Linked DNA regions of Homo sapiens: region 1 is linked to region 2. Evidence: fine-mapped expression QTL. Tissue or cell type: sun-exposed skin. Region 2 holds a variant in brackets; the other region holds the start of a gene. All regions are shown on one strand. Distances are from middle to middle.

Region 1 (2,500 bases), 130 kb before region 2:
CAGGCAGTGGACTGGGAGGCAGGTAAAGAATCTAGGGCTAAGTGCTCAGTATCTTTTGTATCGAGCAGTAAACAAGCTAGTCCCTCTCCCCAGGAAGTGAGCAATTGTGCCTTTTCGTGCCGTGGTTGCTGTGGCCTGCTGAGTTGCCTAAAGATTGGTTAAGGAAGTGGCTCAGAGTTAGAGGGTAGGTAGGTCTTGCATTTCGGCACAGTCAGCAAGGATATTCAGGAACTCCCTTGCTCCCATAAGCTTATATTGTATAATCACTGAGTAATGTCTATTAATATGGATGGACCATGGTTTATTTAATTTGTGATTTTTTATATTCATTCTTGTTTTTTTTTTCAGTTGACAGACCTTTCAGTCCTCATTCCACATTGATCTGCTCTACATTCAAAGACTGACTTTCACACCTGTAAGACAAAATAGTTTATGTAAGAAGCTATATTTGCTCATTCTGCTTGCCAGCAGAATGTCAGAGAATTCTTTGGCAGCTACATTTCACAAATCCCCTAACTCAGTGACTAAGTGCAGCCCCTGGAAGAATGCCCCTGAAGATGATAACATCTCTTGCATGAATCTTTTCTTGCAAAAGTTCCAGGATCCTAACTCATGCCTCTTCCTGTACATAATAAGATAATAGCTGATAGGATTAATGATTATGCCTCTACAATCTATAACCAGATGTACCCTTGAACCCCACCCTTGATGAGATTTTGCTCTAATGTAACTGCTGAGCTCATTTGATGTAACTGCTGAGCACATCTGATGCCACTTCCCATCACATGCCACCACCTGTACCTAAGCTTTGGAGCAGTCTCACAGAAAGTCTCTGAAAGACTCTCCGGATTGCAATCCTTAGTAAGACATCTGAATAAAACTAATATTAATTATTTAAATGACTGATTTTTTTTTCTTTGGTTAACACACCCAACTAAAAACGGACCGCTCACATCATGTCAGGCAGTCACAGCAAAAGCAGAACCGTACTAGAGAGGGGAGGGGGTGGACTTGGGAGAGAAGTCAGTTTTCCCCCAGAATCTTTCTCTCTCATCAGTCACAGGTTTCTGAACACACTGACTCACCAGGAAACACTTTTTAGGTTCTCAAGGAAAACACTAAGTAACTTCAGAAACTGTAAAGGTCATAGAAAACATTATTTTATATATTTCCGTATTACCACGTATACGCGGGAATCCTCCCAAGCCCCTGGCACCGCACTCCAAATGTCCATCTCCAGGAACCCGCCCTTCAGTGCCTGGGGTCCCCTAAACAATGTTTCAGTCCTCGGGCTCGGTGGGTGCATCCTTTATTGGGGAGCGCGGGGGCTGCCCGTGCCCCTCCAGTCGCTCCCCGTAGGGAGCTGCGCACTGCGGAGCCCTCGCCCCCGAGCGAGCCTGTCTCGGACTCCCAACCGTCAGCCTCGTTCCGGGCCGCGGAGGCCGGAGCAGCTCCCCCGGGGCAGCGCAACCGCTGGGGCCGGCCTCAGTGGGCTGAGTGGTCGGGGCATCGGGGCCCAGAGAGCGGCTGGTGAGTACTTGGTCGGAGCGCGCTGTGAGCGCCCGGCCCCTGTCCGGGAGGCCCTGATGCAGCCGGGTTCCCCGCCCACTTTCCTTCTTTTTAGGGGACTGGAATCCACGCTACAGTTCAGTCCTCCACCTCTGTTAGTTGAACCCAGGGAACCCCTGCTTCAAAACCCCAGCTGAGTCACTACCCTTTGTCAGTCTCTACACTGGACATCTAAGTGACTTCACACCCACTCCCCGTTTTGAGACTAGAAAACCAAATACCGCACGTTCTCACCTATGAGTAGGAGCTAAGCTATTGCTACGCAAAGGCATCCAGAGGGGTATAGTGGACTTCGGAGACTCAGAAGGGGAAGGGTGGGAGGGGGGTGAGGGATGAAACAACTACATATCGCTTGCAATGTATGCTACCTGGATGACCCTGAAGTCTCAGACTTCACCACTATCCAATGCATCCATGTAAAAAAACCACCTGTACCCGAAAAGCTATTAAAATAAATAAATAAATAAATAAATATATATATATATATATATATATATATATATATATTTTTTTTTTTTTTTTGAGACGGAGTCTCACTCTGCCGCCCAGGCTGGAGTGCAGTGGTGCGATCTCGGCTCACTGCAATTTCTGCCTCCCTGGTTCAAGCCATTCTCCTGCCTCAGCCTCCCGAGTAGCTGGGGCTACAGGCACCCGCCATCACGCCCGGCTAATTTTTTTTGGTATTTTCAGTGGAGACGGGGTTTCACAGTGTTAGCCAAGATGGTCTCGATCTCCTGACCTTGTGATCCGCCCACCTCGGCCTCCCAAAGTGCTGGGATTACAGGCATGAGCCACCACGCCCGGCCATATACCTATATATTTTTAAAAATTCAAAAATAAAACAAAAAAAATGCCTCTCCCTCCGGCTTATTTCCCGTTCCTCTACCCTTCTCATTCCCCTCTAGCCCAAAAGTCTCATCACTGAATTTAC
Region 2 (2,500 bases):
AGTTTCACTCTTGTTGCCCAGGCTGGAGTGCAATGACATGATCTCGGCTCACAGCAACCTCCACCTGCTGGGTTCAAGTGATTCGCCTGCCTCGGCCTCCCGAGTAGCTGGGATTATAGGCATGTGCCACCATGCCCGGCTAATTTTATATTTTTAGTAGAGACGGGGTTTCATCATGTTGGTCAGGCTGGTCTCAAACTCCTGACCTCAGATGATCTGCCTGCCTTGGCCTCCCAAAGTGCTGGGATTACAGGTGTGGGCCACCATGTCCGGTGAAGAAGCACTTTTATTAGAAGATTTAATAATAATTTAAGCAGAGTAAACTCAAACTTTTATTCTGTAATATCCTAGTTTGAAGATGTATATATACAAAATGGGGACCAGCACTGAATGAGACTAACTCCTCATCGGCTGTCATGTGTGAACCTGGAGCATATCCATGCTGTAAATATGGATTTCATATTTTAAATCATCTCCAATGGATCTGTGGCTTATCATTAATTCTGACTTTTCTTGCACTTGCATTGTCAAGACTCAAAGCTGTTGAAAACTCGGACAGTCATCATTTTTTTAAGAGAAGACTGTCATCTGTTTTGCTTCATAAATATTGAAGACTTTACTTTTAGATTTGAATGATCAATTCCAAGAAATTTTAAATTTCTAAATCATCTATTTCCTTGAATACACATCTGACTTCAACATTTGTCCACTTATGAAATGTATCAAATACAACTTATGTAAATATAAATAATGAAGGAACACTGTCACTTATCTTTTTCACAAAATGGAATAGTTTAGGTTCTTGTTGCAAAATATTGCATGATAAGGCCCTTATTTCTATTGAAGTCTACGGAAATATATTGTTTACTTATAAATTACTGGATTTTATAAAATTCATCTAGGTTATGATCATCTGAAGACATAGTATGAGATTTCACATATTAATCAATTTCACCATCAAAAGGGAATGCTGCTTTCTCTTTCCTGTTTAATACTTGGGAAACACATTTCTTTGTCAATTTTCTTCTCTTTACCCTTTTAGGTAGAAAATGAAAAATTCTGAATTCTTAACTGTATTAAATGAAAGCAACTGTATTAAACAAGCAAAAATCAAAAGACAACAAAAATGGTGTCTCTGGCATTCTTTTTATATACTTTTTTGAAAGATTTTGCAATACTTTATGTTATACAGTAAGAAGCCTGGAGGATGATGCAGTAGTCATTTTTTTTTCACTGTTGCATTACCCTTTAGGCAATGTCATCATTCTCTTTTCTTATTTTTTTTAGTCATTTTTAGCATAGTTGAGAATAATAATAAGTGGTAATGAAATAATTCTAAGAATGATGAAAAATGAATCAAGAATTGAAAAAATAGGACAACTAAGAT[C/T]GCAGAATGTGTCTTAGATTTGTAAAATCTACTACGCCTACATGGTAATTACAAGATAGAATGGGCTGGGTGCCGTAGCTCATGCCTATAATCCCAGCACTTAGGGAGGCTGAGGCGGGCCGATCACCTGAGATCAGGAGTTCAAGACCAGCCTAGCTAACATGATGAGACCTCATCTCTACTAAAAATACAAAAATTAGCCGGGCGTGGTGGCATCTGCCTGTAATCTCAGCTACTCGGGAGGCTGAGGCAGGGGAATTGCTTGAACCCAGGAGGCAGAGGTTATGGTGAGCCGAGATCGTGCCACTGCACTCCAGCCTGGGCAACAGAGTGAGATTCTCTCTCAAAAATAAAATAAAATAAAATAAAAAGATAGAACGACTTTTACTTCATTACAAAATTTATTTTTGGTTTTTGAAGTATCTCTGATGAAGAATAAAAGTTGTGAATGTCAATCCTTATAAATAAACTTGAAAACTAAAACTGAATCCAGTAGAACCTTATGGCATACTAAGGGCTGAGGAATTTCTGGGAGAATCCACAAATTCTGTTGAGTGGTCAATTTGGTGTTTTACACATTTAAGAATTTTCCTTTACTTGGACCTTTTATTCTTGTTTTAAACACAGTAACTTCATCTGGGCACATGTGGGATTTTTTTTTTTGGATAGGATCTTGTTCTGTTGCCCAGGCTGGAGTGCAGTGGTGCAATCATAGCTCACTGCATCCTTGAACTCCTGGGCTCAAGCAGTCCTTTCACATCAGCCTCCCAAGTAGCTGGGACTACAGTCACATGCCACCACACCTGGCCACATGAGGGAAAACTTCTGGTAGGAATAGGGTGTTTAAGCTCAATCTTAAAGGCAGATCAGGGCTTAGTCAAGGGAAATGTTCTCATAAAATCCAGCTTGTATTTGAAAGAAAAAAAAGTCAAATGAAACCTTAGCCGCAGCTATGACCTTATCATTAAGTTTTGGTCACATTGTTTGCAATGATTGGTATAGTAAGTTTCTCATTAAAAAGTAGCAAGATTTTTTTTCTTTACAGAATAAACCATTTGCTAATGTCAAGTTATAGTCTGACTTGGAATATTTGGGAGCAGTAAACTTGGCCTT

Evidence for each region. PIP is the estimated chance that this variant, and not a neighbour inherited with it, causes the effect. A credible set is the group of variants that fine-mapping cannot tell apart.
Region 1: DNAH8 starts here. The variant in region 2 is the best candidate, but not a certain one, in a credible set for the expression of DNAH8 in sun-exposed skin (GTEx, PIP 0.86).

The regions. Positions count from the first base shown.
Region 1 is chr6:38,713,886-38,716,385 of GRCh38, forward strand. DNAH8 (dynein axonemal heavy chain 8) reads left to right here and starts at 1,426. Exons shown (of 93, transcript NM_001206927.2): 1 at 1,426-1,530. It overlaps DNAH8-DT (DNAH8 divergent transcript), which reads right to left and starts at 1,330. Exons shown (of 2, transcript NR_186581.1): 1 at 1,181-1,330; 2 at 285-413. RefSeq lists a silencer at 1,413-1,462.
Region 2 is chr6:38,839,687-38,842,186 of GRCh38, forward strand. All of the region lies in intron 33 of DNAH8 (dynein axonemal heavy chain 8), which reads left to right. Among named protein-coding and RNA genes, the nearest start is that of DNAH8-AS1, 110 kb to the right of the region's middle. The variant C/T (reference allele first, on the strand shown) is at 1,388.